Linked DNA regions of Homo sapiens: region 2 is linked to region 1. Evidence: fine-mapped expression QTL. Tissue or cell type: whole blood. Region 1 holds a variant in brackets; the other region holds the start of a gene. All regions are shown on one strand. Distances are between the middles of the regions.

The links. PIP is the estimated chance that this variant, and not a neighbour inherited with it, causes the effect.
Region 2: TOB1 starts here. The variant in region 1 is fine-mapped to the expression of TOB1 in whole blood (INTERVAL, PIP above 0.99).

What each region holds. Positions count from the first base shown.
Region 1 is chr17:50,893,905-50,904,760 of GRCh38, forward strand. It overlaps LOC105371825 (a long non-coding RNA gene), which reads right to left and starts at 167. Exons shown (of 3, transcript XR_001752940.2): 1 at 4-167. The variant G/A (reference allele first, on the strand shown) is at 7,389.
Region 2 is chr17:50,862,992-50,870,991 of GRCh38, forward strand. TOB1 (transducer of ERBB2, 1) reads right to left here and starts at 3,363. Exons shown (of 2, transcript NM_005749.4): 1 at 3,067-3,363; 2 at 1-1,172. The coding sequence starts at 1,026. It overlaps TOB1-AS1 (TOB1 antisense RNA 1), which reads left to right and starts at 3,688. Exons shown (of 2, transcript NR_038458.1): 1 at 3,688-4,226; 2 at 4,505-5,380. RefSeq lists an enhancer at 1,979-2,028 and silencers at 2,569-3,178, 3,189-3,698.

The sequences.
Region 1 (10,856 bases):
TACCCTCCTGCCTGAGCCCTCATGCTGGCAGATTTGGTTCTTTCCATCTCCCTCTCCGCTGAAGTCTTCTCACCCTCACTGACTCCATGCTGGATCTAGACCTCTGAATGGTCCATCCTAGTGCCTGTCCTGGCTCTCCCAATTCCCCTTTAATCCAAAGGTCTTGGGTTGATCCTTTTTAAAAAGAAATTATTTTATTCTTTAAAACTATATATAAATAATTCATGTTTTTTTTTTTTTTTTTTTTTTTTTTTTTTGTTTTTTGAGACGGAGTCTCGCTCTGTCGCCCAGGCTGGAGTGCAGTGGCGGGATCTCGGCTCACTGCAAGCTCCGCCTCCCGGGTTCACGCCATTCTCCTGCCTCAGCCTCCCGAGTAGCTGGGACTACAGGCGCCCGCCACTACGCCCGGCTAATTTTTTGTATTTTTAGTAGAGACGGGGTTTCACCGTTTTAGCCGGGATGGTCTCGATCTCCTGACCTCGTGATCCGCCCGCCTCGGCCTCCCAAAGTGCTGGGATTACAGGCGTGAGCCACCGCGCCCGGCCATAATTCATGTTTACTATGGAAAAAAGAAATCACTTATAATCTTGCCACTCAGAAATAATCTCTGTTAACATTTTTGTGGTGGGGCATGGTGGCTCATGCCTGTAATCCCAGAATTTTGGGAGGCCAAGGTGGGAGGATTGCTTGAGCCCAGGACTTCAAGACCAGCCTGGGCAACAAAATGAGACTCCATCTCTTCAAAAAATAAAATAAAAAATAAGCCAGGCATGGTGGTGTGCGCCTGTGGTCCCAGCTACTCAGGAGGCTGAGGTGGGAGGATTGCTTGAGCCTAGGAGGTCAAGGCTGCAGTGAGCTGTAATCGCGCCACTGCATTCCAGCCTAGGTAACAGAGCAAGACCTGGTTTCAAACAACAACAACAACAAAAGCACGTTTTTAGGGTATAATCTCTTGGACCTCCCCTCATTCCAGAATTTACCTCTGTGCCCATCTTTGCTGGGACACTTCTGATAGGTGCCCCCGTGGTGTACTGGAAGTATGCAAATGCCACTTCAACTAGTTTTTTTCTTCTAAAGTCAGTAAGATAGGTACCCGGCAAATGTCACTTCTTAGTGAGCATCTACTGCAGGATAAGATGTATTTGCCAGCTTGCATGTGGATCTAGATTGTGGAATCACCTTCCTTGTGGCCTCTGCACATCTACAAATGAGAATGTCTTGCCTGCATTTTTGGAATAGCCTCCTTCTAGTTACGTGGCCTCCAGAGTGAGCAGAACAAGACGCTAACACATCGGATCACTCCTCCGATTGCAACCTTCCGTGGCTTTGCGTCCTGATTTGGGACAGACTCGGGCCACCCGCCTCCTGTGTCTCTTCAGGACGCGAGGCTTGTTTGCCTTTCCAGTTTCTTCGCTTGCCTCCTTACTGGGGGTGTTCATGCTGTAGCCTCATCAGACAATTTGCTCTTCCTAGAATGGGATGACTCTTTGCACCTAAGGATCGTTGTACGGGCTGCTCCAGCTGCCTGGAGTCAGTTTTCCTTCCCCGTTTCTTGTCTGACTAGTATTCCTACTCTTCCTTCAAGGCTTAGTCCAAATATCATCTCCCCTAACTACCCTGCCCCATCTTGTCTACTGTCACTTATGCGCGTCTCCTCTGTGGAGACGTAACAGGCCACTGCTAGACTTTGACTCATTAAAAATCTGTCATCTGTCTCCCTCACCACACTATGAGCTACCTGAGGGCAGATATTGTATTTTTTCTTTATTTAGACAGGGTCTCGCTCTGTCACCCGGGCTGGAGTGCAGTGGCACAATCACGGCTCACTGCAGCCTCAACCTCCTGGGCTCAAGTGATCCTCCTACCTCAGCCTCCCAAGTAGCTGGGATTACAGTCACACAGCACCGCGCCCAGATAATTTTTTTATTTTTTGTAGAGACAGGATTTCGTCATGTTGCCCAGGCTGGCCTAAAACTCATGGGCTCAAGCGATCCACCCATCTTGGCCTCCCAAAGTGCTGCGATTATAGGCGTGAGCCACCATCCCTAGCTAATTTTTGCATTTTTTGTAGAGACAGGGTCTCACCATCTTGCCCAGGCTGGTCTTGAATTCCTGGGCTCAAGCAATTTACCTGCCTCGGCCTCTCAAAGTGCTAGGATTACAGGCGTGAGCCACCACTAGGGATTGTATTTTTTAACACTTTTTTTTCTTCAGCCAGTCACAAAAAATCTGGCCCACAATGCATATTGAGTTCAAGAGGATTTCTTTTTAACTGACTAGAATAAAGGAATAAAAACTATACCTATAGCTGCTCAATGTTATTGTTGCTTCAGAGGTAAGCATTTTTATTAGATCCAGGTACAGAATAAATTTCAAAATTGACTCGGACAACAAGTTTGTACACACCTATGATCTTAATGCTTTACATTATGTAAATTACCTCATGTGAATTACTTAATTTAATCCCATCTCAACCTCACAACAGCCGCATGAGATGAGAGTAATTTTAAGTTATAGATTAGCCAGACTCAGGGATATATCAGGATCTTACAAATAGCAAATAATAGGACCAGAATTTGAACCAAAATCAAAATTATGATCATTTTCTAAACCAAAATGATTAGGATTCAATTGTCTTTAAAGTTTTCTGGGGCCAGGCACAGTGGCTCACCCTGGGAGGCCGAGGCCGGTGGATCCCTTGAGCTCAGGAGTTCGAGATCAGCCTGAGCAGCATAGAGAGAGCCCCGCCTCTACAAAAATATACAAAAATTGGCCGTGTGTGGTGGCACAGACCTGTATTCTCAGCTACTTGGGGGACTGAGGTGGGAGGATCACTTGAGTTGGGGAGGCTGCAGTGAGCTGAGACTGAGCCACTGCCCTCCAGCCTGGGTGACAGAGTGAGACTCTGTCTCAAAAATAAATAGGTAAATAAATAAATAAATAAATAAAGATTTTTGGATGCAGAAATTTGTTTCCAAAAGCAATATCCCTAAACCTGGCCCCTTAGTCGCCTGGTTCCTCATAATTTAGCAGCTGAATAATCACGGGTTCACATCCTTCTCAAAGGGTACTGGGTGTGGTGGCACATTCCTATAATCGCAGCTACTCAGGAGGCTGAGACGGGATGATTGCTTGAGCCCAGGAGTTCGTGCCCAGCTGGGCAACACAGTAAGACCCTGTCTCTTAAAAAAACGTAACTAGGGGACTTATGACCAAATCTTTTCCCTTCCTTCATCTCAACTATGATAAACTTTCTCCAGTCATCTTTCCTCAACTGAACATTTTCTGCATAACTTGGAAAAGTGGTAGATTGTTACCCACAAACAAAGGACTGCTCATCCAGGTAGTATATGGGGTGCACTGATGTCTTGAAGATCTTAACAGAAGGACTCTGATACTGGATGTTCTTTATGTGTAGAAAAGTGCCTTGTTCTACTTAAAGTTCTCATTCACTCAAAAACATTTACAGAGGAGTTAATAATCACAGATAATAACAGTAGCTAACGTTTATTGAGGGCTTAGTATGTGAGAGGCACTGCTCTACCTGCCTTATGAATAGTAACTCATTTAATCCTCAACAACCCTCAGGCAGGAACTATTGTTAAGACAGTCTATAGATGAGCAAACTGAGACAGAGAAGGCAAGTAACTTGCCCAAGGCCACGGAGCCTATGGTATATTGCCTGTCCCTCCATGCACAGGGCTCTCAGCCAGCTTAGGGTAGATGACACAGGCCCCGCCCTCATGGAGCCTAATTGCTCATGTGAGAGAGACATGGAACAAGGAACTTCGGTACTTGGTGCTGGGGACACATACAAGGTGATAAGAGGTATAAGAAAGAAATGTTGGGCCGGGTGTGGTGGCTCACACCTGTAATCCCAGCACTTTGGGAGGCTGAGGAGGGCAGATTTCTTGAGGTCATGAGTTCGAGACCAGCCTGGCCAACATGGTGAAACCCCATCTCTAATAAAAATACAAAAAATTAGCTGGGTATGGTAGCACACACCTGTAGTCCTAGCTACTCAGGAGGCTGAGGCAGGAGAATCGCTTGAACCTGGGAGGCAGAGGTTGCAGTGAGCCGAGATTGCACCACTGCACTCCAGCCTGGGTGACAGAGTGAGACTCCATCTCAAAAAAAAAAAAAAAAAAAAGTTGGACTGCTGGACTGCTAGCTGATGACTTCAGAGGATCAGAGGGGGTGACATTTTAGCTGGATCCTAAAGGATAAGTAGGAGTTCAGTAGGCTGACAAGGGTGGGGTTTGTTGCACAGAGTAACCTTTGCGAAGAGGATAAAACATGTAAAATGTGGAGGTGGAAGAAGAGTAACTTACTTGAAGAACAGTGAGAATTTCTGAGTGATTGGCTCCCAGGGTCCACAGGGGAAGCAGCAGGAAGAAGCCTGGAAAAGCAGGTTGGGCCAAATCATGGAGGGGCTAAAGGAACTGTACATTAGTTGGTGAGAAAGGAAGACTTACTGGAGATATTTAAACAGAGGAGCAGCATGATTACATTTGTGTTATACTTATGAGCAATGGGGAAGATGGACAGGTAGGTGAGAGTTTAAAAAGGAAACCAGAAAATCAATCAAAAGGCAGTTGGAGGCTCACACCTGTAATCCCAACACCTGGGAAGGCCAAGGCAGGAGGATCGCTGGGGTCCAGGAATTTGAGACCAGACTGGGCAACATAGTGAGACCCCATCTCTAAAAAAAAAAAGTTAACCTGGTATGGTGGTGCATGCCTGTGGTCCCAGCTACTCAGGAGGCTGAGATGGGAGGATCGCTTACGCCTGGGAGGTCGAGGTTACAGTGAGCCATGATCACACCAGTGAATTCCAGCCTGGGTGACAGAGCAAGAGCCTATCTCAAAAATAAATAAATAAATAAATAAATAAATAAATAAATAAATAAAAGACAGTTAGAATTAGCTAAGAAACACATAGTCCCCCAAGGAAGGAATTGGTGGGCAAAGTATTTTAAGAAGCAGAATCAATAAAACTCAGTGACCCTAAAGCTTCTCACCTGGGCCTGTGTGAATGGGGAGGACATTAACCTTGGCAGGGAATAAAGGAGGAAGGGCTCATTTGTTCATCTATTTGTTCAACAGACACTTTGTCAGAGCACAGGAACCTGCCTCAGGTACTGGGGCTACAGCGGCGATTCAGACACAGGCCTGCTCTCACAGAGCTCATAGCCTCATGGGCAAGGCAGACAAGTAAACACACTGATTACAAGGCAAAGTAGTGTGTGGGCCGCCCCCTGAGTCAGAGTCTGATGGTGACATCTTGACATCTCACCCTCGCTGGCATGGCCAGCCCTAGAGGCAGCACTGGTTCCTCTGGTCACTCTGCCACCCCCTCACTGAAGAGGTCCACTCTGGCTTCCCCAGGGCACAGGGGAAGAGCCTGATGTGGACATTTGGTGACGGCAGAACTGGAGCCAGGGCACAGCTTCTATGAAGGCAGGGCAGAAACTGGGCCTCCCAGTGGGTGAGCCACGTCAGTGCCCATCTGGGAAATCCAAGAGCCAAATGCTGGTAGAACTGGATAGAAACCCCTAATCAAGGCTGTGGGGGGAACAGAGCCAAGAGTTTATTTTTAATTTATTTTTATTTTTTTAGAGACAGGGTCTCACCCTGTTGCCCAGGTTTAAGCACAGTGGTACAATCGCAGCTCACTGCAGCCTCAAATTCCCAGGCTCAAGCGATCTTCCCACCTCAGCCTCCTAAGTAGCTGGGACTACAGGTGTGCACCACCACACTCAGCTAGTTTTTAAATTTTTTTGTAGAGACAGAGTCTCCCTACGTTGCCCAGGCTGGTCTTGAATTCCTGGGCTCAAGCGATCCTCCCAGCTCCGCCTCCCAGAGTGCTGGGATCAGAGGCATGAGCCACCGTGCTCAACCAAGAACCAAGAGTTTAAAGCTGGGCAGATATGAGACAAGAACAAGCCAGAATATCCAGGGATGATTATCCTAAACCCCAGGGAACTCGCTGTTTTCTCTGATGGCTGGTATGCGCATGGTACTCGGGTTATAGGGGCTGGCAAAGAGGGTCAGAAGTAGCCCTCTAACCAGTGCACTGGTTTCTACATGCTGCAGAGAAGTGGCCCAGTCATCACATCCTTTTCCATCCTCCCAGATAACCCGCATCAGTTCATCTGGGTGTGCTGTGGATTGCAAGGCATGAAGATTGACTATCTGTAATTGTTTCTGCAGGAGGCAAGCTGCAGGAGACGGAGGGAGGTAGAGCGAGGGGCCAAGTACACAGAGAGCAGGGCCTGTGAGGAGAGGATTGTCCCCCACTCTCCCTCTCCAGTTTCCTCTCTTTAGAAAGAAAAAGGAATGGACAGGGTCAGCAGAATCTGGAGGCTGCGTTGAAGCTGCCCGTGCTTCTGAACGAAGCAGCCAGTGCCGCTCGACCATCTGGGACACCGGTGGAATTCAGGGCCCCTCTCAGGACATTCAGGGCATGTGGACAAGGTCAGCCACAGGGTGAGGGAGATGGGTAGAGAAAAAGATAACAGGAAATGAATAAGAAAGGGAGCTGCAAAGAGAAAAAAGAGAGCTGGAGAGGAGTAAAGAGGTGAAGGCCCTGTTTCCTGTCCTTGGATTCTTACAGCTCTGCTCACAGCAGCTTCATTTCACACAGTGGCACCGACAACTGATGTGACCGCTTGGGGAGGCAGTAGTGGCGGGAGAAGGCTGGGTTGGGGACCAACTGGGTATGGCATGAGTTTCTGAACCTGGAGAACCTGAAGCCTGATGATCCCTGATGGGAGATGACAACAGGTGGACTGAGCCACTGAGGGGAGGGAGGCGAGCTGGGAGGGGAGGGGGGGGTTCCACGGCAAGCATGTGAATGAGGACACTGGTGGCTGGAGTCCTGGGAGCACCGCAGTCTCCTTTTGGGGTTGATCGGAGCCCTTGGCAGCTTGGGCAGCAGCCATTCATTGCTGTCTTCATTTTATTAACTTTAATTTGTAACTGGGTTGATCAGCAACTGTTCTTCCTGGAGGGTGTAATTAGGGTTATAAATAAAGTCAAGTGGAGAGTTTGGACAACCAAGGGCTGTGCATTCTGTGCTATACTGAGCCCGGGGCCCCCCACGACACCCTCCCTGGAGGACGCCATTTTCCAGCAATAGGTTTGTTGCCTCATTGACTCAAAGGGAAGGCTGAAGTCGCACAGAACCTCATACTTCATGATTTGGAAGGAGTCAGCGTTGGCAACCTTGATCTTCTAGAAACCAGCCATTTGGGGTATTTCCTGGTGGAGCCTTTTTAATTTAGAGCCCACAGCATTCAATTGATCCCAGATGTCCCAGCTCTTCCTTGAACCATCCAGGTATAGTGCATGCTCCTCCCCACCTACCCCATCCAGGCTGGACCCAAG[G/A]TCTCTCAGATCTGACTGCTTCTCTCCACCCCTACTGCCCAGGCTTTAGTTCAAGGACAACTCAGTTTCCCTCTGGATTATTCCTTGGTCCTCCTGGTCTCCCATGGCCCTCTCACTGTCTCCAAAGTAACCATCCTAAAGTACAAATATCTCCTTGTTACAGCACTCCAGGACAACCCCAAACAGCCAGCCCCTCACATCTCTTGCCTTTGCACATGCAGTTTCCTTCTCTTTGAATTTGTGTCTCTCTCTTGCCCTTACACGTCCATCATTGCTTGGTCTGAAATTGGTCCTCTACTCTCTTAAATCCTGTGTGTCAGTGTCATTCTGGATTTGCAGATGCATTTTGGACAGGGATCGTATCTCTGAATTTTTTTTCTCTAAGGTCTATCCCAGATAAGGCCCATATATAGATGTTCTAGGTGATAAGGTTCTAAATGTTCTATGTGATAAAGCTGCTGCTGTATATGTGGCTAAGTGTTGAAACCAACACTCTCCAATAAAACTTTACGTGGCGATGGAAATGTCCCATATCTGCCATGTCCAATATGGTAGCCACTAACAACATGTGGCGATTGAGCATTTCAAATATGACTATTGCAGTGAAGGAACTAAATTCATGGTATTGAATTTTAACTTAAGTAATTTAAATTCAAATAGCCACATCTGGCTAGTGGCTACCATATTGGACAGCACAGGTTTGGCTTAAGCCAACTTGGAATAAGGGTTAGTTAACAAGACTTCCTGCCTGTATCAAATTCAGCACCTCACAGCTATTTTTCAATCTTTGAATAAAATAAATAGCAGTAACAACAATATTTAATCCAGGATTAAATATTGTTTTGATAGCTCAGACTGGGGCAATGTCACAGGCTTATCATCCCAGGCAAACTTTTGATAGTCCAGGGCAATTTCATCTGTTTAAAACATGCTGAGGCTGGCGGTATCTTGCCAGCAAATGCCTTCTAAAGAAGGTGGAACATGGCCGGGTGTGGTGGCTCATGCCTTGTAATCCCAGCACTTTGGGAGGCTGAAGCAGGTGGATCACTTGAGGTCAGGAGTTTGAGACTAGCCTGGCCAACATGGTGAAACCCCATCTCTACTAAAAATGCAAAAATTACCTGGGTATGGTGGTGCATGCCTGTAGTCCCAGCTACTTGGGAGGCTGAGCCAGGAGAATCACTTGAACCTGGGAGCCAGAGGTTGCAGTGCACTGAGATAGCACAGCTGCAACTGCACCCCAGCCTGGGTGATAGAGTGAGGCCCTGTCTCAAAAAAAAAAAAAAAAGAAGAGGAAGAAGGTGGAGCATGATGAACCCAGCTAAGTGAGCTGCTCCAGGCATGAGTAGTGGTATTCCCCAAGCAGGGGAGAATGGTTTCTTAGGTATCCTGAAATGTGAGAGAAATTATATCCCGAGAGTCTTACAGGGAAGATCTGAATTTATCCTAAAAAGGTTATTTATTGGCCCAGCCCTAAAAACTTTAAAACAGGGGTAGAAATAGGACTAGTTCAGCAGATGTGCAGTGCCAGGCTGTTAGGTTTCCTTAACTCTTGCTCCAAGGGTAGATCCTTTCTTCTGCCTGTACTTTCTTGGCAATTAGCAATGTGTCTGAATACAAAAAGAAAGCTTAATCCTTTCTTTCTGGGCAGCTGCATCCTTTGAGTTACGGAAGCCCGGAGCTCTCTGGTGACTGATGGCAAGGTGGAACAATGGGTCAGACAGGGAGGTGAGAGCAGGGGTAGGACACTGACAGCAAAAATACAAAGTTCTCCAGCTCCAGTGCCTACCCCAGTTATCAGCCTGTGCTAATGAAAAGTGACGACTCAGGAAAAGAAACTCTCAGCTGCCTTGGCCTCTAGAAGAAATGGTTTTGATGGGGGTCGGGGAGCAGCAGGCTGGGGAATAGGATGAGGCTGCCAGCATGGCAGTAGCTCTGTTTAAAAACACCCTTGGCCAGGCGCGTGGCTCACGTCTGTAACCCCAGCACTTTGGGAGGCTGAGGTGTGTCAATCACCTGAGGAGTTCGAGACCAGCCTGACCAATATGGTGAAACCCCATCTCTACTAAAAATACAAAAATTAACCGGGCGTGGTGGCATGTACCCGGCACTCAGGAGGCTGAGACAGGAGAATTGCTTGAACCTGGGAGGCAGAGGTTTCAGTGAGCCGAGATCGCATCACTGCACTCCAGCCTAAGCCACAGAGCGAGATTCCGTCTAAAAAACAAACAAACAAAAAAAAAACAAAACAAAAACAAAAACACTCTCACAGGATGGGAAGAGCTAACAAAAGGAAAATAATTATAGCATTTTAGCCAACACTGTATCTGCTTAAACTCACATATAAATAGATCCTTAAGCCCTTCTCTACTCGGCATAGCCACTTTAACCTCATCCATGAGCAGGGACTTTGAGGGGGCAGGAGAATGTTTTCTGGTGAAGCAAAGAACCGCCCCCACAACCAAAGCACCACACAAACTTACGAAAAAAACAAACAACAACAACAACACCAAAAAAACAAACAAACCCTGCTCAGTCCCTGGGGAAGAGAAAAGGCCAGGATATGGAACAGGGAGGGAAGGGCTGCATTCAAAATCCCGTCCTACCCATACATTGTAAAATGGTACAACCACTTTAGGAAACAGTTGGGTGGTTTCTTTAAAAGTGAAACATACACTTACCATGTGACCCAGCAATCCCTCTTCTAGTTACTAATGCGAGAGAAATGAACACATGCATCCACATGATGATTTATATACAAATGTTCATAACTGCTTTACTCATAATAGCTGCCAACTGGAAACAACCCAGATGTCCAAACACAGGTGAATGGCTACACAAACTATAACATATCCATATAATGGAATATATTACTCTGCAATAACAAGGAAAGAACTATGATAGACGCAACAATATGAACGAATCTTGAAATCATTAGGCTGAGGGGGAAAAGTCAGAGGTAAGAGTAGAGTAGAAACTGTATGGTAACGTATACAAAACATGCAAATCTGATCTGTCATGACAGAAAGCAGATTGGTGCTTGCCTGGGGCCAGGGAAGGGGCATGACTGACTCAGAAGGGGCCACAGGGAACCTTTCAGGGTAACGGAAATGTTCTCTACTTTGGTTATTGTGGTAGGTATGCAAACATACAACAGTGCACCTAAAATGGGCACATTTTGTTGTGCGTAAGTTAGACCTCAACAAAGTTGACTTAAGAAATAATTCCTTCCCGAGAGCCTGGCCTACGAGGTGCGGGCAAGCAGAGAGGCCTCCCTCAAGGCACTGGCGATACTGCCAAGCTGGAAAAACGGCTCGCTGGCAGCCTGGAAAAGGCCGTTCTCTGGCTCTTGATCCTTAAAAGGCTGGAATTTCTGGCTGAACAAGAAGGCCTGGGCCCAGTCCCCAGGGGGCAGCTTCTCCTCAGCTCTGGGCAGGGTGCCCGGCCACCCCTCACACAGGTGCTGGC
Region 2 (8,000 bases), 32 kb before region 1:
AACAGGCTGGAATTGCTGGTTAGAATACTGCATGTTATTTAAGCTAAAATTCAAGCCATCTACAAAAGATTTCTCATTGAGGCCTCCATAGGCTGCAAACACATCAAAGGCATTACTGTACTGGAGAGGACTGAGGTTAAGGGGGCTGTCACCTGGGAACATTCCATTGGTACTACTACCTTGACCCTGCATATTAGGAAAAATAAATTCCTTGGCATTAGGAGAAAGAGCAGAGGTTTTCTGCTGTTGTTGCTGCTGTGGTGGTGGTGGTGGCGGTGGCGGCTGGGCTGGCTGCTGCTGTTGCTGTGGCTGCTGCTGGCTACCCAAGCCAAGCCCATACAGAGAGTGCATTGAGGAAGAGATGGCTTTCTGCTTCAAGAGGTCATTCACATTCAAGCCGAGGTTGATGGGAGAAGTACGTGCAACCTTGTTGCTACGGCCACTATTCTTCATTTTGGTAGAGCCGAACTTGGTGGCAGCAAAAGTGGCAGTGGTAAAGGTTAAAGGCTGAGTGGACCGGGGCATGAAGGTAGGGCTTACAGCAGCAGAGTGACCAAAAGGAGGCGATGGAGAGCTGGACACTGATGAGGCTGGGTCACTTATGGGCATAAAAACCTGGGCCTCTGGGTTAAAGCTGTTTTTGATCTCCTTATCCAACTCACATCCATTTTCATTATTATCATCCACGTAAAGCACCTTCACTGGTCCCTTTTCACCAATTTGGTAAGAAACCTCAAATGGGTCGATCCAAACACTAAGATCCTGTGGCAGATTGCCACGAACATCATCAATGTCCAAACCACTCTCTTTGGATGCTTGTTCAATCACTGGGTCCACTTTCTCCCCTATGTGTATACATCTAAACCCCGATCCTTTGTATGGCTTTTCAGGATACCAGTGCCCTTCATATTTCTTCTTAAGAAGTCTTTCAAGTTCTTCACCAAAAATGTTGACACGTCTCCTGGGAAGCTTATTGTACAAATACGAAATAATAAAATTTAGTGCTACTTGGATTTCAAGCTGCATAGCTGCTACGCCACAAAATTAGGTTTCAACTCCCCCACCAAAAAAAAAAAAAAAAAAAAAAGATGTTCAGTTTGTGGCAGAGAAACAAATTTTCATTCAAAGTGCTGGTATTAGTAGATTATCCTTCACCTTGAGTGATCTTGTTCCTTAAAACAAAAGCAAACATATCCAAATAAGATAAATGTAATATAAGTCCCATGACCTTCCCCCCTCCAAAGTAATTTCACCTTTCAAAATGTCTAAGATCCTGTGTTAGTCTGCTAAGGATAAAAAGAAAAAGAAAATGTCTACTAGGACAGAAAGCCTGAAAACTGTTACTAGCACAAAATAAACATAAAATAGAAAATCGTTTATTAAAGTTTAAAATGACACAGGAAAATGTAGATTTACAAATGAAATAATGCTTTTAAAAACCTGTTTCTGAATAGAGTTCTAAGAAGAAAAATCTCTAGAACATGCATTCTTCTCTCCTCAGTTCTCACAAGAATATTTATTGTACTCAGCATCCTCCCCCCACCCCCATATATATAGATGCCACTTTTAGGTAGTAATTTTTATTGTTATTCACCAACTTAGAAGTGAATCCATGTTTTAGTTTACTTTGGATATATACTGTTTAAATCTGCTCTGTCACTGACATTTAAAAATTTGGTTACGTTAGGAAGATCATTTTAATTTCCATAGTACATGATGCTAAAATTAAAGACACTGAGTACTAAATGAACTTCATCCTAGTAAATAATTATGAACCAAATTATTCTATATAGTTTCGGCCTTAAGTATACTAAGAGCATACAATATAATAAAATCCAGCTTCTCTGGGCCTTTTGTTTTCAATGTGTATTTTTCTAAATCTGAAAATACCTATTCGGCAGCAAGTATAACAAAAGCAAAGACACAAATTAAAACTATTGATTATTCTGTTTAAGGCCAGGGTTTCTGAGTTTTAGTCTGATTTTAAAAAACCTCCGTCTGTCCCTCTCTCCCTCCCTCCCTCTCACGGTAACAGCCGGAGAGGCAAGTATGGTAAGGTCGACCTTTAAACGTTTGCTGGATCAGCACTGGGTGGGGATAAGAAAAGATCAAGGGCAAACAGAAGATATTTGCGAAAGGGATCTATTTGCACACTGAAGTTGATTTAAAAGTACGTTTAAAAATCAAGTTGGTCTTAATTCGTCTGTTCTATTTTCCATATTCGTGGTGACAAAGGGAAAAAGAATCTCTGGCTGCCCCCAAACTACAAACACTTTCCAAGTCAAAAGCCTGAGTGCCGGCAGAGGCAGCTGATTAAGCCCAATTGCTTGAAGGTGCAGCCGAGCGAAATTCAGGCTCGGTGGAAGGTAGTTACAAAGCAACGCCTTAAGACAGGCAGGAGTGTGAAGAATTACATAAACAGCCAGTTAGATCTCATTAGATTTCTGCTCACAGCCCTCGGAGCCCAAGCGCTACAGCAGCAGCAACAGCAAGAGGAGGTGGAGGTGGAGGAGGAAGAGAGTACGAGCCTCCTCGGAGAAGGAGGAGGAAGGCCCGGGAAATGGAAGAGCAACCTCTCCCGGCTGGGCACCCAGCACCGAGCAGGTCGGGGCGCCGGGTCAGCCGCTCCCCTCCCCCGCCGTAACCCGACCCGCTGCTCCCCGCCCCGTGGCCCCCGCCCCGGGCTCCTGGGAGCCGGCCAGAGCCTGGGGGAGCACCGGTTCCTCGGCACCATTTTCAGCCTCGCGGCCACCGGCCCCTCGAACCCCAGCGTTCCACCGCGAGCTCGTCGCTCCTCCGGGCACCCCAACCCCCCAATTCCCGTCAGCTCGCCCCGGGCCGCCCGTCCCCGGCCAACTGCCCAGGACGAGCCCGACGCGCCGGCGGCCCCTCGGAGCCGCTCCCCTCGGGTCCTGGCGCTGCCCCCTCGGCGCCCAGGGCCGCGACCCCGCCGTCCCCGAGCTCCCGAGGGCCCAGGGCTCGACGCCGCTGCAGCCCCTCCTCCGCCGCCTGGGCCCGGGGCTCCCGTCTCCTCGCCGACCCCGCCCGGCGCCCCGAGATACTTACGGGCTGCTTCGGGGCGGCTTGGACCACAGACCCGCGGCTGGGCGGGGAGCAGCGCGGCAGGGCGGGGGCGCGGGAGGGTCGGGAGCGGCGAGCTCGCCGAGTGCAAGACGTTGCCGCTGCGGGGCTGAGGACAGAGGACAGAGGCCTCGGGCAGGCCTTGGGAGATCGCCGTTAGTGGCTCGGGGTGGCGGGCACGGGGGTCAGACGAGCGCGCTCACTTCTCCACACAGCCCGGTGCCCGGCCCAGCGTCCCCGTAGTGCGCCCGCTACACGCCGGGCCAGAGCTTCGCTCCTTCTGCCGCGGCGCGCGCCCCGCCTCTCGTTTTATGGCCTCCTCCCCGCCCCCATCCCCTCCGTCGGGGTGCGCGCGCCCGCTCCGCGTCACACAGCTCCGGCGGCGCAGCCATTCCCCGCGCTCCCCGCCCGGCACCCCGGTCCCCCGCCGGCCGGCTCCGCCCCTGCCCTGCCCCCCGACGCCATTGGCCAAGTCCCGCCTGCCCCTGTCCGGACGCGCGGCGGACGCAGGGGTGGGGAAGCCGCACCCTCCGGGCTCCAGGAGGGCCAATGAACCGACGATCGGAGCACTGGGGACGGAATGAAGAGAACGTCTGGAAAGGGACTGTGGGGGCAGACGTGCCAATGAGAGAGAAAGGGGTGGGGTAGGGCGGCTGACGCCCGGTTTAGGCGGAGAGCGCCGGGCAGAGGGGGAGGGGGACGAAGCTGGTGGCGAAGCGGCTCAGGAGAACCGGGGCTGGAGGAGCGGCAAGAGTACCCAGAAAGTGCCCTCTCCGCGGGGGTCTGCGGCCAAGGAGGATCCTGCTCGTGGAATAGCTACCAAATCGGCCTCCAGCCCACCCCAGGGGCGGGGTAGAGAAAGGGCAAACTGTGACCGGGACTTGTGCACCCGATTAATTGAATATTAATCACCCCAAGGCCTAGGCCAACCGCCACCCAGAGAGTGGCAGCTGCAGAACCCAAAGACGTGGAGCCGGGCTGGGGGTGGGGAAGGGAGGCCGCCACAGCTCCCGCCCCGCCGGCAGTTTAACTGCTTCCGCAGCCTCAGGCCTCCCGGTGCGACCCCGGCTGCGACTCGGATCCGTTTATTCCAAATGTCCCAGCCCACGCCGTGCCCAGAGTGTGGCGACACGAGGCCAAACTGCGTATGTATCTGTGTCCATGTCTACACACACACGCATGCGTGCATTTCTAGGGCTTGCTGGATCGCAGGTGCACAGAATAAACGCGGTGCCTGCTTGTAAAGCGCGTTTAAGATCATTCTTGGCTGAAATATGTGCGGGTACCTAGGGAGTGGGGTAAGAGAGGGACTCGTGGTGGGGGGCGGGTAAGTGCCTTTTTCACAACCTGCCCCAGAGAAATACACGAAATTACATCGGGAGTGGAATCGAGCGTCCCTCTCAGCTAAAAATATTACTCACAGGTAGCAACGACGCCTGATTGGCTGCGCTGGTCCCTTCGCAACGAGGCGATTGGCTGCCTGGTATCCAGGAGACCGACGTCAAACTCGGACTGGGAAAAGGGGAAAGTCTGGGGGGAGCGAAGGAGGGGACGGGGAGAAAGAAGCAATGAATGAAACGCCCATCGCCTGGCCTTCCCCTTTCCCCTTTCCCCTCTCCTCTCCATTCTTGGAGCACTTCCTGGAAAAACACCAGTTGGGGCGCCGCCTTCCCCTCCAAACGTTGGGGCCTGCACTCTCAACCTGCTATAAGGAAGTTAAACCGCAGCTCACCGAGGAGTAGGGTGTCTACGGGGCGGGCCCGTGTAGACCAGCTGTGCTCCTCGGGCACAAACCCGCCGTACATGCCAGGCCTAGAAGCTTTTGGCTTTGTGGACGCAAAATCTGGTTGGAGCCGCCTTCTCCACCCTGACTCTCCCGCCTCTCCTTTTTAGAAGGAACCGCACTGAGAAAGGGTATTTCTGAAGGCTCAATGCGTAGGAGAAGGGGTGGGAAGATGGGTTTGTGGAATGGGCTGAGGGTGGGGAGTGGTCAGGTGACTGATTTCATGTTTATTGTACAGATTCCTAAAACATAGTTTTACTAAGTGACTCCTTAAATTCTGATTAATGTGATTTTTTTTTTTTTTTGAGTGTTTGGGTTTTTTAGTTGCAAACAGGAGTGGAATTGAAATGTGAAAGTATGGCAAAACTGTGAAAGCATTTAAATTAAAATGTCCCTTCCTCTGCATTGAAATGTCATCAAAGCGTCAAATATAAATGATTTGTTCAGTTTTCTTTTTTTATTTGTTTGTTTTTGGTTTTCTGTAATGACAAGTCCATCTGTAATAAAAGTGAGTTATTTTTAGTTTTCTAATTAAGCACAGAAATTTCAAGAAACTAGACAGGATATCCTTGGAATGCCTTACCAAAAGAAACACTTCATTTTTCACGTGTTCTAGAAGCACAACTTCTTTTACCATTAGGCAAATAATGGTACTGTACCAAACATCTAGAACTGCGGGACCATGTGTCTTGATTAGTAATTTTATATTGGGGGGGCATATTAGGCATGGCTGAGACTAAAATGTCTAAAGATAGATGAATTGTAATTTTGTCAAACTTATCTGTACTTTTCAATAATTCTCTAAAGAGAAGGGACAAGTTCTCTTTTCTGAATGTCTTCAATCTGTAATTCCAGATTTGAAATATGAGAGCAGTCATCTGATAGGTACTGATTAAATATCAGTAGCATTAAAAGCATTTTTAAGTCAGAAATGTAGATGTCAAAAATTTATGAGTTATTGCTGCTTGGCCTAGGAGTGTAAGAAGATGTCTGACCAAATATAAACACACACACACACACCACACAAACAACACACACGGAGGCCCCATGGCATACTGGAAAAAGCAATGAAGGGTGGGTACTGGGAGGTCTGAGTTTCACACCAGTTTCAATAAACTTTTAGTTTTCTCACCTATAAAAAGGGTTGAATTAGATCATATCTAATGTCTCCTTCAATTAAAAAAAAATTCCACACTTGGCTGGGAGCAGTGGCTTACGCCTGTAATCCCAGCACTTTGGGAGGCTGAGGCAGGCAGATTACCTGAGCTCAGGAATTTGAGACCAGCCTGGCCAACACGGTGAAACCCCGTCTCTACTGAAAATACAAAAATTAGCCGGGTGTAGTGGCACACGCCTGTAATCCCAGCTACTTGGGAGGCTGAGGCAGGAGAATTGCTTGAGCCTGGGAGATGGAGGTTGCAGTGCGCCGCGATCGTGCCACTGCACTCCTGCTGGCCGACAGAGCGAGACTCTCTCTCAAAAAAATAAATAAATAAAATATTCCGCCCTTAAAACTCAATGTTCCTAACATATATACTGCAGCTGTTCTTCAAATACAGATTGCAAGTCAGGGCGCGGTGGCTCTCGCCTGTAATCCCAGTACTTTGGGAGGCCAAGGTGGGTGGATCATCTGAGGTCGGGAGCTCGAGATCAGCTTGACCAACATGGAGAAACCCTGTCTCTACTAAAAATACAAAATTAGCCTGGCATGGTGGCGCATGCCTGTAATCCCAGCTACTCGGGAGGCTGAGGCAGGAGAATCACTTGAACCCGGGAGGCGGAGGTTGCGGTGAGCTGGGATCGCGCCATTGCACTCCAGCCTAGGCAACAGGAGCAAAACTTCGTTTCAAAAAAGAAAAAAAATACATATATATGGATTGCAAATAAAAGGGAAAACTGATTCACATCTCTGAACATTGCCAGTCACGAGGTATAAAATGTTCTTTATCCAAGTTCTGCATATGGCTTATTATTATCTAACATTTACTTTGGAATTGTGCAGGGGAGTGGAGGGCTAACTGCTAATTGTGCAGGGAATTAGACTTATGGAGGAAAAAAGAATTTGATATTAGGCTCCAAGTGTATCACAATCAAGAGGTATTCCTCTCTCTGAGCAAATAACAGTCACTAGAAACTACAGCCTTTGCCTTTCACATCCCTACATTCTACACAATTCCCAGTGGGCCCTTACAATAAAGGTAATCGTTTGGTAAAAAATAACTTCCAATATCTTCATAAAATACAGTTCTTGAAAGTGCCTTGAATTATTACCTAATCCACACAAGAACACACACATGCAACACCTTGATTTCTGAGATAGAGACATCCTAAGTTTTCTAATTCTTAATATGCTTCCTTGTAAATTGAGAAAGGGTTACAGGAGAATAGCTATCACATGGTGTATAATTATTAATACTCATTTTACTTCTTTTTTTTTTTTTTTTTTTTTTTTGAGACAGAGTCTCACTCTGTCGCCAGGCTGGAGTGCAGTGGCACAGTCTTGGCTCACTGCAACCTCTGCCTTCCGGGTTCAAGTGATTCTCCTGCCTCAGCCTCCCAAGTAGCTGGGACTACAGGCATGCGCCACCACTCCCAGCTAACTTTTGTATTTTTAGTAGAGATGGGGTTTCACCATGTTGGCCAGGATGGTCTCTATCTCTTGACCTCGTGATCCGCCCGCCTCGGCCTCCCAAAGTGTTGGGATTACAGGCATGAGCCACCGCACCCGGCCGACTCATTTCACTTCTAAGGAATCAACCTTTTACCTTTATTTGAAAATAAGACAGGCAGGGCAAGGTGGCTCACATGCTCGTAATGCCAGCATTTTAGGAGGCTTGAGGCGGGAGGATCCCTTGAGCCGAGGAGTTCGAGATCAGCCTATGCAACACAGTGAGACCCCTATCTCTATTTTATTTAAAAAAAAAAAAAAGGCGGGAGTGGTGATGCACACCTGTAGTCCCAGCTACTTGGAAGGCTGAGGTGGGAGAATCTCTTGAGACAAGGAGGTGGAGACCAGCCTATACAGCATAGCGAGGCCGTTTCTATTTTATTTTCTTTTATTTTTTAAAAATTAGCCGGGCGTGGTGGCGCACACCTGTAGTTCCAGCTACTTGGAAGGCCGAGGCAGGAGGATCTC